Linked DNA regions of Homo sapiens: region 1 is linked to region 2. The links come from fine-mapping of genetic effects on gene expression. Tissue or cell type: esophagus mucosa. Region 2 holds a variant in brackets; the other region holds the start of a gene. All regions are shown on one strand. Distances are between the middles of the regions.

What was found. PIP is the estimated chance that this variant, and not a neighbour inherited with it, causes the effect.
Region 1: DAPK2 starts here. The variant in region 2 is fine-mapped to the expression of DAPK2 in esophagus mucosa (GTEx, PIP 0.93).

Annotation. Positions count from the first base shown.
Region 1 is chr15:64,043,151-64,051,150 of GRCh38, reverse strand. It overlaps DAPK2 (death associated protein kinase 2), which reads left to right and starts at 4,666. Exons shown (of 12, transcript NM_014326.5): 1 at 4,666-4,853. RefSeq lists enhancers at 146-692, 6,233-6,282, 6,333-6,382 and silencers at 4,493-4,702, 4,723-4,782, 4,813-5,032.
Region 2 is chr15:64,001,571-64,009,830 of GRCh38, reverse strand. All of the region lies in intron 2 of DAPK2 (death associated protein kinase 2), which reads left to right. Among named protein-coding and RNA genes, the nearest start is that of DAPK2, 41 kb to the left of the region's middle. RefSeq lists a silencer at 10-69. The variant G/A (reference allele first, on the strand shown) is at 5,071.

The DNA of each region.
Region 1 (8,000 bases), 41 kb before region 2:
CGAGCCTAAAGAAGAAGGTGGTTGGATGTTGTAGCCCTAAAGGTGGGTATAGTTTGAGGGGTCCTGGCCACACAATGTGTCACCAGCCTCTGTCCTGAATAGAAGGCAATGGCATATGCATGGGTCATGATCCCATAGCGTAGGCCCTGTGCTGGCTCAGGTGGAAATAGGGGCGGTGAATGACAAGTGGTTTCATACCTGCAGCCCTTTACATGCACAGCTGCTCACACCCCATGTGCCCTGCCTCCCTTGCCCCACTGTGGACTTTTCTGTTCTCCCGGTGATCCCTACTCTTCTTTCAAGTTTGAATCAAGCTTTCCTTTTCTCTGGAGGCTCCTTCTGGAGTAGATCTGACCTTTTATGGCATTGGGTCTTTATTTGCCCCTACTCCAGCACATAACCCCAGGAGGTACTATTGAATGTTTGCGGAGTAAAAGAGTGTGTACACATGTCCAGGAAATCCCCATCCCCCAGGTTCTCTAGAGAGAGGCAAGGCCTCCCATCCCCCAGCTCCTTCCTCCCTTCTCTCCTCCCCTTCCCTGCCCCATCCCTGTGGTGCTGAGTCCAGCAAGGCTAGAGGCTGAAGCAGCTGCCTCTGGCTGCAAGAACCAGTGCCCCCGGGGGTGGGGGGGGTAGCAGGAAAGGTTGCCAAACCAAGCCTGCTCCACACCTCCCATCTAGGAGGGCAGATGGCACAGGGCAGAGTGGGCATGGCTGGGAAGGGCTGAGAAGCCAGGCCACCAGGTCAGTTTGGGAAGAAGCAGCTTCCTGCCGGCCTTCCATCCAGTAGGCAAGCCCTCTGGGGAGGAATCACCTGTGCACTCCCTTGGCCGAGAGCCTGAGAGTCAGGACTTGACCCGTTGTCAAGAAGACTGCATTTCAGACTGCATTTGGCAATTCTCTGGGCCAGGCTAGGGGTGGGATGGGGCGCAGAGATGAATAAGATCCATTTCCTCCCCAGGGGAGCTTATTGCCAGACATTTAGGGAATAATAATAACAGTTAATAATCATTGCGGACTTTACCAAGTGCCAGACACTGATCGAATTGAAAAGTAACTGCATGCTCACAACAACCCAAGAGATAAATGCTACTATAAGCTCCATTTGACCTATGGGGATAATGAGGCACAGAGAGATCAAATAGCCTGCCCCAGACCACATGGCACGTAAGTTGCATGCTGGGATGCCTGAGTGTGGGCCCAGGCAGTCTGGCATCAGAGTCTCTGCATTTAGCCGTCACACTACACATGCTGTAAGCCAACCCAGGTGCCATCTGCCATGGCCAACATGCAGCATCTTAATCCCCACCTTGCCCCCTTGTCAGGAGGTTTTTAGGCTCTGTAAACTTGCCAGGCACCAAAGTATGCTTTAGGATATCACCATGACTAGTGCCCTTTGCTGCCTGCCATGGTTACATCTTTATCTATGGGCTTGTATTCTCATCCCTGGGAAGCACAGGTCCTGTGACTCTACCATCTCACAGTCCCTTGGAATGTCTTTTACAAAGCAGGTACTCAGATGTGTTTGTCATTGAGGGGGTTGAGAATTTCCCTAGGTCTCTGTGACATGAACAGACTGGGTCTCAACCTGTGCACTGGGAATCACCTGGGGAGTTTAACAAAAACTGATACCCAGAACTCATCCTCAGAGGTTCTGATGTAATTGATGTAGGGTGCAGTCTAAGCATGGGGGATTTTAAGCACCCCATGTTATTCTCAGTTATTCTGATGTACTGCCTGGACTGAAAAGTTCCAGATTAACACTGTTTTAGAAATCTTGGAAGTTTCAGTTGAGGGAAGGCAGCAGAGGGAATAGCTTCAGAGACCAGTAGGCAAGATTCATGTCACAGCTCAGCCACTTACAAATTGGATGAGTTTGAGCAAATCAAATTTCTCAAGCCTCAGTTACATCATCTGTAAAAGAGGATAATGACATCCCCCTAGAAGTGAAGCACTTGAAGTAAGATTATTGAGCATCTACTAAGTGCCAGGTGCTTGGGTGCTCTTAGGGGACAATAGAAAACAAGACAGCTATGGCCCCTTGTGATATTTACCTTCCTTAATTCAGTTTAAGAAACCTTTACTGGGTTTGGGATATCAAGCACTGTATGGGTTCAAAGATGGACAAGAAATTGTACTTGCCCTTGAGAAAAGGAGAAGTAGACACTAATTAAAATAGAGGAAGGAAGATGACAAGAGATGTACCAACCAAGAGTGGTGAGGTTCAAAGGAGAGAGGTATTTAGAGGGCAGACCAGGGAAGTTTCTGTGGAAGACATGATACTTTAGAAGGCTCTTAGAGGATAGATAAGATTTTGTAGAATGGGATGAAGGGTAGTGGAAACGAACAAAAGCATGGAGGCAGGAACAGCCAATAATCCAACCTGGCAAAAGAGCTGGATGTGCATGCAGAGGAGGGAAGGGAATGTGCATACACAGCAGGAAAATAAGGGTTGGGGCCTTAAATGCTAGGGTGAGGCATTAACACTCGATTTGGTCAGCCATGGGAACCATGCAGGGACTGGAACTGAGTTGGATAATTCTTAGCTCTTAATACCTGGACTGCCTCTGGCTTCATTCTGGAATTTGTGTCTTCATTGCCACTGTCCTCGGGGCCTCCCCTTTTCTGCTGATGGCCACCTTGGTCCTGTGTTCAGTGCCCTGTCGCTGCCCTCAGGTGAGGGTCTGATGAACTCACCCAACCTTAAGCATAAGATGCATCTCCAGATGGTAGCTTCCTAGATAGTTGCATTCTGGCAGGTACAGTGGAAGGGGCACCAGACTGAATCTGGAGGAGGCCTGGTTCTAATCCTAGCTCTGTCTCTCACCAGCTATGTGATGTTGGGCAAGTCACCTCCCTTCTCCGAGCCTCAGTTTCCTCATCTGAAAAGTGGCCAGGGTCAATTGACAATGACCCTTCCAGCTGCAATGGACTCTGACTAACTTGTCAATTGCTAAACCCAAGAATGTCTCTTTTGACTCATGTAAGGGGCTGCTGCTGCTGACAATGAGGTATTAAGCATGAGGCTCAAGGGAAAGAGATGGAGAGGCCACATGTAGGTGATCAGCAGGGTCAGCTGAGCCCAGCCTTGGATTCATCACAGCCCAGGTACTGGGTATGAGAATGGAGAAATCTCCAGATGATTTCAGCCCCCAGCTATTCAGGTGTTCCCAGTTGAAATCCCAGACACTGCAGAGCAGAAATAAGCCATACACACTGTGCTGTCTGAACTTCTGTCCCTCAGAATGCATGAACATAGTGAAACTGTTGTCCTGTGCCACCAAGGCTGGTAATGGTTTGTCACCAGTGATAGGTAAATGGAAATGGAGGAAGAGGTGTTTAGGGATAGTTTGGTGGGGGACTTCTCATGTTGGTGAAACTTCACCAGTGGGTGTCATTCCCTTAGGTCCGTTGACATCAGAAACCACCTCTAGTCTTGGATATTACTCTATATATCATGCTGCTCTTAGGAGAGGAGGCTCGCTGGCTGCACTGTTCTGAATTATTGTGAAGTTTATAAACAAGGAACTCTTTGCCGAGGATGTCCTGGACCCGGAGGCACTGCTCAGCTGGGGGGTGGGGTCCATCTGTATTTGTCCCAATGTCCAAAAGGCTGAAGGGTGTGTGTGTGCTCACACTGGTAGAGGTCCTCTAGGTGCATCTTACACACTCCATCTCATCTCAGCCCCACCATAGCTTCATTAGGAGCTACCGGAAGGTGCGTTTCTCCCACTTTACTGATGAAGAAAGAGCCATGCCCAAGAACACACATGCGGAGTGGCAGGGCAGGGCTTTGAACCTGGTGGTAGGACTCTGAATCTAAGGCCCTTTTGAGGAGCCCCATGGGTGACTTAGGGATGGAAATTCCAGGGGTTGGAGGGGTCCTCATTTGCTTCCTCTAAACAGCCTCTTGTTTTGAAATAAGACAAATGAACTTGGCTTAAGTTCTGTTTTCCCTTCCTTCCTCCCTTCACCCCCTCACTCTCATTCCTTTTTTCCTCAGGGATTTTTTGGCAGAGGGCAGAGAGAGGAACCCATTCCCAAGTCCTCTATTAGAGAAGGCGTGATGGTGAGAGGGGGGCTTCACTCAGCAACCGTGCCAGGACAAAGGGCAAACGAGGGCAGGCCGCTCTCAGGCTGGGTCGGGGGCAGTGAGGAGCAGAGCGGCCCTTCTCATCGCAGCCCCCACCTTGCTGTACGCTGTGGGCTTGAGGTTTCCAGGAGAGTCTGCGGTGTAGGGAGCGCTCTGGCTGGGAGGGAGGAGACGGCCTATTCCTCAGTGGGGCTTCCTCGCTCACGGTGTGTATGGTGGGGAGAGGAGCACACAAGTACCATTTTCTGAGGATTGTGCCAGACCATGTCATACGTATAAGCTCATTCAAATCGATTTCCAGATAAGGCCGGGGGAGGGTAGCCGACTTGCCCAAGGCCACGCAGCATGTGCGCGGTAGAGCCGGTAGGGACGCGCAGAGGGTCTTGCTACCGACTCTCCCCGCTCTCCCGGGAGTCTGGGAGCCCTGAGGTGTCCCCTACCCGGCCGGGAAGCTGGGCTCTCGCCCCGGGACTGTCCGGAGGGGGCTCCAGCAGGGGGCGCCCCGAGCCCCGTCCCGGGCAGCCGGGCGCGCCTCCAGCCGGCGCCTGGGACGGGGCTGGCCGCTCCGCCCCCTCGGCTCCTAGGCTGCTCGGCGGGCGGGTGCCGGGCGCTCTGGGAGGAGAGGACTGCAGGGCCGAGCCCAGCGCACCCCGCCGCGTCCCCCGTTCCCGCCGCGCCCGCCGCGCCCGCCGCGCCCGCCGCGCCCGCCGCTCCCGCCGCGCCTGCCGCGGCCGCGACCGCGGCAGCTCAGCCTCCCGCCGTGAGTAGCACCCGTCTGCGGGCTCGATGGGCGGGACGGGGCGCGCGGCCTGACGGCAGCAGCGCCCGGGTCTGGGGCTGGCGGGGCGAAGAGATCCGGGGCACTCGCTCGCAGATCCCGGGCCCGCCGCCCCAATGCCTGACGCCGTGGCCCGGGGCATTGTGGCCGGCACCCGAGCGCGGGAGCTGCCCGCCGCTGCCCTGGGGCGCCCTCCGGAGCCTGGCACTTTGACCTGGGAGACAGGGTAGAGGCGGCGGGCAGAGCCAAGCACCCAGCAGGGAGATGGGAGACAGACGTCCATCGAGTTAGGCCCCCTGGAACGGGCAGAGCACGCCCGGCTCCCGGCCAAGTCTTCTCAGCTTGGGCTGACTCTCTCACCTCTTGCTCCCGCCTGGCACAAGGATGTGATGCGAGGAGGGTGCTCAGATGTCTGAGCTTCCTCTGGGGCTGAATGAAGCTGGGGTCCCCGCCGTCAGGCGCCCCGGCCTGGGGTAGAGCTAGGATGGGCGTGGGGGCGGCCAGCAGGTGTGCTGCAGGTTGGGGTGGAACGGCTTGGAAGGGCGTTGCCAACAGTTGACTAGGACTCTGGGCTAGGCATTTTGGAGGTCCCAAGGCTTGCATAGGTCTGGCTAACCCTCACCGTAACTCTGCACGGTGGAAATTGGTATTCTTACTTTACAAAAGAGAAAACAAGGTCCAGAGAGGTGAGCCTCGTTGAGGCCGTGCAGGTAATGGTAAGGCAGTGGTGCACACTGGAGGAGAGGGCACCATAGCTGGCTGCCTCGGGGGCAAGCGGGCAGGTGCAGGGACAGCGCCTGACATCTTGTATCCTGGAATCCTGTGGAGGGCAGCCACTCTGGTTTCTGACACTGCGACTCCCAACTGCCTCTGTGGAAGATATTCCTGGGAGAGTCCTGTTGACCTAAGAGGCCGTGGTGCCTTGGCCTCTTCACAGCTAACTTCACAGCCCTGTCCTTCCCCAAACCGCTCATCTCCCAAGATGTTTTTTGAGCACCCTCAAGTGGCACCACTGATGATTCAGCACCTTCAGAGGAGACTTGGGCAGAGGGGTCAGGGGTGTGTGGATGTGGCTGGAGGTCTGCTCCTCTGGGGTAAGTTCCTGGCTGGCAGGAATGAGACCCGCACTGACCCTGCCCACCTCCTTGAGGCCTCCCGATTTGTTAGCTGTGGGGTGAACAAGCAGGCTTCCCAAGGGAGCTGGATCTTTGCCAGAGAGACCAAGTTTTTCTTGTGTCAACTCAGGCAGGTGGCTGACCTTCTGTGGGCCCCAGCTTCCTCATTGGAGACTGTGATGGGTCAAAGCCTGGAATGTAGAGAGGAGCTCTGTAATGCCGGAGCCCCATCCCTTCTGTTGGCAGCCTCTCCAGAGCCTGAGTGTGATGATTCCTAATGGGGGTGTGTGTAATGAGACGGTCGTGTGTGTTTTGCCCAACCATTGCCTGCCCTCTTGCTGTGGTCCCGTTTCACTCACTTGCACTTGGTGAGGTGGGATGAGGAACTGAGAGAGTTCACTTTGCAGAGTGAGCTGGGCCAGTGGTGGAGAGGGCTTCTTGAGTGTTGAGAGTTTCCTATGAGGTGATCTTCCAGCCCTAGACACCTCCTCCTAGCTTGTCCCTCAGGAGGCCACTGACTTTGCCAACCCTGGTGACATCTTGGAGGAGTTGGGGTGGCTATCAACAGAAGAAGCCCTGGGAAGAGGAGCGGGATGGGTCACCTGTATGATGCTCAGTGAGTCCCTTCCCCTTTCTGGATCTCAGCTTCCTCTTGTAAAAACAAGTGGGTTAGACCAGACAGCAGTGGTTTTCAAACTTCTGTTTCACAGTGAATTCTTACCCAGAACGCCAACATATAGTATGGATAACGTGGAACTGCTCTGGCTTCCCCTTCTCACCCTGGTGATCCTGAAGCAGTTCTAAAAATCCCTAAATAGATGATCTATGGGGTTCTAGGAAATCTGTGGTAGCCCCCTGAAGTGTTGCCTGGTATTAGAGTTGTAGGCAGGAATTTGAATTCCAAGGACTCCATCAGGAGAAACATGGGCATTAAGGTGGGTATCATCCTGGGAGCATCTGGAGCTGATGGCCTGTGCTTCTGGCCAAAAGTTGTAACTGTGTCCCTTCCCTCTGCCATGTGATTTCAGCTTTTCGAGGCTGGAAAGGTCCTTGTGCCTCTGGCTCCTTATCTGGGTCCTAGCTGGTGACTATAATTCCACTTCAGTTTCACCCCTTTAGTTTGTTTCTAAACTGGTAAAATGCAAATTCGCCTTAGGAGAGGTGTTAGGAAAGTGCTTGAAGTGGCTATCAGTTGTTTTACCTGATGAGCATCTGAGTAGCGGCCTTGAGAAAGGAGGCTGGGGAACTAAGTTAAAATCAGCCAACACTTATATAGTGCCTACTGTGTACTAGCCTACGACAAGGGGACAGAGGTAGGAATGTCACAATTCTTGCCCTTATGGGGCTCCAAGTCACAAAGAGGAGGGAAGGAATTCACGTTATCCATGGACCGTTTAAAACATTACACATGGGTTATCTCATTTGTCTCACATTAGTCTCATTTTAAAAAATTATGTAAAATTTTGATCACATACAAAATCATCCCATATATCCATCTAACTACCACCCAGATCAGGAAACAACATTGCTGGCACTCTGAAGCCTCCGAAGCTCCCCTTCCAACTCTCCCCTGAGTGAGGGGATAGCCACTCTGCTGACATCTAGCACCATGCATTAATTTTACCTAAATGGGATCACACAGTATGCAGTCTTTTGTGTCTGTCTACTTTCATTCAACATTATGTTTCTGAGATTCATCCATGTTGTTGCAGGTAGCAGTAGTTTGTTAATTCTTATTGCTGTATAATGATTCCATTGTATGGGTATATAGTACCTCAATTTGTTTATCCAGTCTTCTATTGATAACCATTTGGTTGTTTCCAATTTTTAGTTATTACTAATAGTATTGCAGTGACCATTCTAACGTGGATCATTTGGGAAAACATCTGCATGCATTTCTCTTAGATATGTCCAAAGAAATTGCTGAACAGTTTTCCAAAGTGGTGGTCCCAGTGTATACCCCTCCCAGCAGTGTTTGAGAGCTCTAGTTGCCGCACATACTCACCAACACTAG
Region 2 (8,260 bases):
GTGGTGGGTCACACAGATGAAGTGTAAGACATTGCCCTGCCCTTAACAGATTAACCTAATTTAGGGGCGGGGGGAAAGGCAAACACAGTAAAGAAATGAGCATAAAGAGACAATTAAGTGTACTGAACTTTAGGAGCTAACATATTCCAAGGTGAGGATTCCTGGGGGGTGGCATGGTCAGGGAAGACTTCCAGGAGGAGCTGGAACTTGAACTTAAAACAGGAGTAGCATTTGGGTAGGCAGACGACCTCCTAGTTTAGGCAAATAGGGCTAGCAGAAACCCAGAGGTGGAAATGAGTGTGTTGGGGTGTGTCTGCTGGGAAGCAGAGTACATTTGGGCAAGTAGAATGAGGCTAGGTGGTGAAAGGCCCCTGGGGCCTGGCCAAGGAGCTCAGGCTTGATGGGAAGGAGAAAATAATCTTGAGCAGAGAACATGATGATGTCTGCGTTGTAGGACAATATACTGGGGAATGTGGGGTGTGGATTGGGTGTGTGGGTGGAGGGCTGAAGACAGCAACACTGATCAGGAAGCTGTACTAAGTGTTGGTCTGTAAAAGTCTAGCTCAGGAGGATGGCAGGTAATGAAGAGATACTAGCCCAAGTCCATTCAGAAAACATGCACTGCAGATCTACTGTGTATCCACTGTAGTTGGTGCCTGGGGGTACAAGGCTGGACAATTACAGTCTACTAAGGGAGAATAATATATAGAGAATTTCAGTAAAATGGGCTGAATCCCATGATGGAGGTATGCACAGGAGGTGAAAATAGAGGAGGGCCTCATGTCCAGGACACCTTGAGGGAAGGATCAGCTGTGACAATAAATTCTGGCCAACTTTCCTATGCCTCCTTTAAACAAAGAGGTCTTATGTTTGCAGACTGAAAAGGGGATCCTACCCTTTCCTCCCCTGTCATCTGTAAGGCCCTTGGTGATGCTGCAGCTCTGTGGCCTGTCCCTCAAGTACACCCTTGATTGGATGACAGCAGTGCACTGCTCTGTTGGTTAGGGATGTCTATGCAGGTGTTTCTTCTCATTTTCTTACTTTTAAAACACAGGAAATTTTAAAAGGAAAAGTTTCACTCAACTATTTGTTATCCTCATGCACTTTTGCATCTGTGTTCTCTAATACAAAAATTGAATCAAACCATACATATCATTTGTGCATGTTCACTTATTATTTTATAAACATGTCCCTTATGATGTTCATACTTGCTATTTTAATGTTTATATAATTGTCTATTGCATCCAGAACATCTGATTGCCAAAGCTGTTCCTTAGTGGAGAATGCTTAGCTTGTTTCCAGCTTTTTCTTGTCTATGAAACTATGTTCTTTCATTTGAAGTCTCTCTAGAGGCCAAATTCCCAGAATACAATGCACCTGGACTCAGATAATCTGACTTTAAGTTCTAGATCTGTGGCAAATTGGCTCTGTGACTGTAACTCTGTGAGTCTCAACTTCCTGATCTCTATAATGGGGAGAGCACTGACTGTGCAGGGTGTTGAGATACTGTCTGAGGCCAATATATGAAAAGTGCTTCATAAAGAACCTGCATATAGGGTAGAGTTGATATCACCTGGTGAAAGCATGTGAGTATTTTTATGGTTCTTTTTTAAAAAAACAGATATAATTTATATACAATTCACCCATTTATAGTGTCCTAAAGCCATTAGTACATTCGCATATAGTGTATTAAAGCCATTAAATGGCTTTAATGTATTCAGAGTTGTGTGACCATCATCATCATCAATTTTAGAACATTTCATTACCAAAAAACCCCCTTACCCATTAGCAGTCACTCTCTGCTTCTCCCAAACCCACTAGCCCTAGGCAACCACTAATCTTCCTTCTGTCTGTGGATTTGCCTGTTCTAGACATTTTGTAAAAGTGCAATCATACAACATGCGGTCCTTTGTGACTGGCTTCTTTCACTTAGCATAGTATTTTCAAGGTCCATCCATGATATAGCATGGATCAGTACTTTTTTCCTTTTAATTGCCAAATAATATCCAGTTGTATGGCTACACCACCTTTTGTTCATCTATTCACTAGATGATGAACATTTGGACTGTATCGTCTTGACATTTAGTGCTAAATGGCACACAGCAAACATAGTTGTATGCTCCAAGCTATTTGATGTGCCAAAAAAGTCGGACTCTCAGTCCCTTATGCAGAATTTTATAGTTAAACAAACTGCAGGCATCAGGTAACTGTTAGGAGAAGCATCACAGAGCTATCCAAGGGGATTTTGGGAAACTCCTGTGCAGAGTAAGCCTGTCCCCCTCCAGGAGGGGACCTGTGCCTGCCTTCCCAGCATTGACTTTCTCTGAGGCTGGGAGATCAGGAGGCAGGAGAGGTTTCCTACTGGCTCTTGGAGGATGGAGAGCTCTGGCTGGAGCTAAGATGAAATGTGAGCAGGGGACAGATTGCCATGATAGGGGAGAGGAAGGAAGACTGGGGGGAACTGGAAACTGAGTGGGGGCCAGAAAACAGGCTGAGGGGACCCTGTACCTTCAGGTCATTTTGAGAAGAGTGAGAAAGGGTTGTGTGAAAGGGAATGAGAAAGGTTGGCTGGGCATGGTGGTGCGTGCCTGTAATCCCAGCTACTCGAGAGGCTGAGGTGGGAGGATCACTGGAGACCAGGAGTTCAGGACCAGCCAGGATGACATAGTGAGACCCCGTCTCTAAAAAAAAAATTTTTTTTTCAATTAGCTAGGAGAGGTTGGCACACATTTGTAGTCCTAGCTACTTGGGAGGCTGAGGTGGAAAGATCACTTGTAAAGTGAAAAAGCACAGTAAAGTGAGGGTGGGCCCACCACTGCCTTTAGATCCTCTCCCCTGCAGCCCATGCAGGTTTTTCCGAGTTAAGGTTTGAGCCTCCCTGCATTTCAGTGACTTCCTGGAGTCGGGCTCCCTATGGGTGGGAGGGAAGAATAATGTCTACTTCCTTCTTGGCTACCTGCTAGATTGATGTAATCTGTACTTGGCCTCACCTCCTCCAGCTGCCAGGCCTTCCCCTGGCAGGCACCAAGGATGAGTTGTCTGACACATGAGGCAGGGTGAGAAGGGAAGAGAATGGGGCCACCTGACAGGAGACCTGTCTGGTCCTGCATCTGTCACTGCCCGGGAGAATAGGTGATGTGGGCAAGTTCCTTTCCTTTGCTAGGCCTCAGTTTCCCCATTTATAAAGTGAGGTGACGGTAAGAAATTCCTTTTATTTCCATGGTTCCATGAGGTTTGCCAAGTTTTATTGTATACTGGGGGATCTCTGACGTCTTTCTTGGTTGTTTCTGCCCTGCTTTGGTGAAGTGGGAATGGAGTTGGGGGAGTTCCTTGCTTCTCTTGAGCGTCTAATATAGGTGACGATGTTGTACGTCCTTAGCTGGTGGTTGCCAAGGGCTGACATATACTGTATAGACCAGGACATGATATAAGGAGAAAAAAGTCATTTTTGCTCCCTGGCTGGTCAGTCTGGGGGCTTATGGCCTCTGATGGTAAAGGCTGACATTCTGCCTCCTGACTGTTTTTTGTTAAATTGGCAAAAGCTACATGTGTCAGAACTCAGGTGGCTACACATCTTGGTGGCAGGTGCTGCTTTGGTGGCGGAAGGATCAGGTTGGTCTGGGAAAGCTGGATGGACCAGTGTGGTGAGCGGAGACCACTCAGTGTGGGTTGGTCCTGACACCCTCTCAGGAGTGATGGGATGCCAGGAGAGGCCATAGGGAGAACCATGCTGAGCTGGCTGGGTTTGTACGTGTTGCAGAGGGTTTTTTGTGGGGTTTTTTTTTTTTTTTTTTGAGTCAGGATCTGGCTCTGTCACCCAGGCTGGATTGCAATAATCCGATCATAGGTCACTGCAGCAGCCTTAAACTTCTGGGCTCAAGTGATCTTTCTACCTCAGCCTCCCAAGTAGCTAGGACTACAAATGTGTGCCAACACGCCTAGCTAATTAAAAAATTTTTTTCTTTTTAGAGACAGGATCTCACTATGTTGCCCTGGCTGGTCCTGAACTCCTGGTCTCCAGTGATCCTCCCACCTCAGCCTCTTGAGTAGCTGGGATTACAGGCACGCACCACCATGCCCAGCCATGTTGCAGAGTTTTATGTGGTTTGAATCTGGTTCTTCTCCCAGATCTAGTCTTTGTGTTTACTTCTTCTCCTTTGTGGGCAAGACAGTTTTTTGTTTTCCTCCCCTGCCCACCCCTACCTTGGCTATCTGTTTCCCAGTATTTGCTGTTGGCCTTAGGCATGAGGGACTCTGGGCAGATTGGTATAAGCCCATTCCTATGTTGGGAGGGCACATGGCTGTCCTCCCACCCTCTGAGTTGCTTCAGACATTCCCTTTCCACATCTTCTCCAGCACCTGCACATCTTTCCGGAACTGCACATGATATTCTTGGGCTGGCATCTATGACTTAGGTCAAGGAAAGGTAAGTTTCTGCTCTTGTATCTAGTATCTGTGGTGGCTGAACTTACCAAACCCTTGATCAAACACACAACCTCACACACAGAGCCTGAAAGTGAATCAAAGGGTTTGAAATTACTGCTCTTTGGGAAAATCTAGGTAGGATGACTTGCCCTGAGCTAACTGGATACCCCTCCTGAGAAGAGCCTCTTGGCTTCCCTGAGACCACAGGACAGAGCACCACTCAAGGATGGGTATTGGGTTCACTCAGAAGACATGTCTTTGTCTTGTCAAACCCACAATCTTGCACCCTGAAGTGGGGGCCTGAGGCCAGAGCACAACAGCAGGTGGATCAGTTAAGCTTTGGGCTCAGTTTCCCTGTTTGGGAAGTGGGGTCTCTCGGCTAGTCACCTTTCATCCTTACTTAAGTGCTAGGAGGATTAGGTAAGAGAGTGTTTTGAAAGCTCATGAAAACCTTCATCTCAAAGGAACTCTGGGAGTAGAAGGAATTAACGTTTCAAAGGAAAGATAAGTCATCACTGATTTGGCACTGAAGCCAAGAGTGTAAGGTCAGAGAACAACCTGTGGCTGCTGAAAGGGAGGGTGTGGCTCTCAGAGTTACAGGATCATTGGGTTGTGTCCTTGGATGACTCAGGAGCGGTGCTGCAC[G/A]TGCTTAGTGCTTTTGTATGTGTGCCCTGGAGCCTGTGCGAAAGCCCGCTGCCAAACCAAGGGGCCCACTGTGGAATTATTGTTATGCAAGCTGAGGGGAAAGACCCCACCAAACCAGCCAGCAGTTTCCATTGAGGCCTAGCAGAGACCCCTATCTCCACCCTTGAAGAGGGGCAGTAATGTCTCTGAAAGTCTCTATCCCACTAAGGTGCTCAAAGTCCTCAGAACACTTGTCTAAACCAAGCTGCCCCATCCAGGCAAAGGTATCAGCATGAGGCAAGCCATAGATTATGATGAGGATTTTTTTAAAAAGTGAGGGTCCCCCTGTTGAATTAATGGATCTAGGCATTGATCATCAGAAGCTGGTAATATCACAAAGAGAGATAGCCAACGTTAGGCGCCTCCTGATGGGAACACACAGCACCACCAATGAAGGAGTCTTGCAAGAAACTCAAACCTGAATCTGATCAAGCCTCTAGATCCAGCTACTCATTTACAGGAAATACAGGGGGCAGAGGAACATGTAAACAATACTATCAGGAAGTGGCCAATAAAATCCAGACAGTGAGAAATGGTATAGGTCAAAAGACCTGGTATTTATGACAAATGAAGTATAAGAAAAAGAGAAAAATGGAGGGATGGAGGGGAGCTCTGGGAAGGGAGAGAGAGAGAGAGAGAAGAACCTAAAGATTAAAAGAGGCTTAAGAGACATATCATTTGCAATATGTGACCTTCCTTGGGTTTTGATTTGATGGAACAAACTGTAAAAAAAAGTTAAGGCACATGGGGGAAATATGAACACCAAATGGATATTGATGACATTAAAGAATTATTGTTAATTTTAAAAGGTGTGATAGGCCAGGTGCCATGGCCCATGCCTGTAATTCCAGCACTTTGGGAGGCTGAGGCAGGCAGACACTTGAGGTCAGGAGTTTGAGACCAGCCTGACCAACGTGGTGAAACCCCGTCTCTACTAAAAATACAAAAAATAGCCAGGTGTGATGGCACACACCAGTAATCCCAGCTACTCTGGAGGCTAAGGCAAGAGAATCACTTGAACCTGGGAGACAGAGGTTGCAGTGAGCTGAGATTGCGCCACTGCACTCCAGCCTGGGTGACAGAGCAAGACTCTGTCAGAAGGAAAAGAAAAGTAAAGAAAAGAAAAGAAGGAAGGAAAAGAAAGAAAAGAAACTTAAGACCCAAGACAGGATGACTGATTTGCTCTTGATCACTCAGCTGATTAAACCCAGGTAATGCCACCATGGGTCAGCAAAGAAGTAGGCGAATCCTGGTGATGCTGGAAGCATTGGATGCCCTGTAAGGACATGATTTTGCAGTCTGCAAAGTGTGTCTAGGTCTCTGCCAGAGCAATGCACTGCCTATGATAGAGTGCTATTGCTAAACCTTCCCACTAATGCAGATTAATTTCACACCCTTTGCAAGTGTTGCTATTCCAAGTTTTTCCTCACTCAGCCGCTGAAAAGGGACAGAATCTAGAGATGTGCTCTGGATCGAAGTCCAGCCTTCAGAGTTAGAAGAGAAGAGCCAGTAGGGGGTCGTCTGTCCATTCTATCCTCAAGGGGTCTCCCCTGAGATCAGTTCTTCCCCACCTTATCTTGTGGCCTTATTGCATCCACCCACCCTCCTCAGCCTCCAAGCCTAGGTCCCATTCCTGCAAATTCCTGCTTTGGGTAAATTAATAAAAGAGTCAGTCTTAACACTACCCCACCACCTCTGGTCCCACGACACACACACACACACACACACACACACACACACACACACAGGTCCCACGACACACACACACACACACACACACACACACACACACACACACACACACAGTGTCTCAGTCTTTCTCTCCCTCCCTCTCTCCTCCTCCCTCTGCTGCTGGTTTCATTAATTAGGCGATTCTTTGTTTAAAAGACCCAAGACTCTAAGGAATGATACTTTACAGATGAGATATCAGTGAGTTTATTGGGTGAGTTGGGGGCACAAAGGCCCCCTGAATTCTTACCAAATAGCTGCCTACTGTATCTGTGTGTGAGATTGATGGGAGTTCATACTATCATCCCTTGCATGTGTGTGGCCTTTTGCAGTTTACAAAGCATATTCACTTGCATTGCTATGTGAGCCTCATAGAAGCCTGACATAGGTAGATATTAGCCTCATTTTACAGAAGTGGAAACTGGAGCTGGGAGAGTTTAGTATGTGTTCTGCCAAGTCCTCCAGTTGGTCATCTATCCATCCATCCATTAATTATGAAATATTTTTTACTATTATGGACAAATTATGTTGATAGATGCTATGGAAGACACAGGGACAATAGGAGAAACTGTTAAAACCTTTAAAAATGTGTTCATCTTCAAAACGTATTTTATTGAAGGACATATATTGTTTATTGCTAGAGCATGTAGAGCTCATTTGTGTTTCCAATAAGAAGACTTACATAAAAAAAGGAATTTCTGATGAACTCTGTTAATAAAAATGTTTTAAAGTAGTCCATCCTTTCCTCTTAACACTATGGTTGATCTGCGTTGAGCTGGGACGTTTCCACCAGATGGGGATCAGAGGTGCCACCTTGGAGGTTGACTGTGCCACTCTCCCCAGGGCCCTGAGCTTGGCTCTTCTGCAGTAGGAGTTGGCAATACCTGTCCCCATGAGCCTCCCAAGGATTTGAGAGTGTAAAATGAGAGGATTCATGTGAAACTACTTTGCAAATCATGAAGTTGCTCTTCAAGGGCTACTTTTATTCACAGAAGGAGTCACTCAACAGATATTTATTAATTTGTGTTTGTTCATAATACTGCCTTTACCAAGGTAGGAAAGCAAATTTTCAGCAAAGAGGGTCAGAACCAAAGGAAATGTGGCATGAATATTGGGGTGCCTAGGATTCTGTTATGCAGTGGATTGGGGCCTTGCCGTAATATTTTCTAAAACAGCACTTCTCAAACTTTAATGTGTATGTGGATCACCTGGGAGTTATGTTAACACACACATTCTGATTCAGTAGTGCTGAGATGAAATCTAAGATTCCACTTTTCTGACAAGCTTCCAGGTGGAGTCAATGCCGCTGGTACAACATTTAGGAGCAATGTTCTTAAGGGTGCAATTGAGAGGAAAGGAGGGGAAGTACAGCCCGGGGCTCCTAGAGTGGGGAGGGGGGCACACTGCTGACCTATTTGTGCCA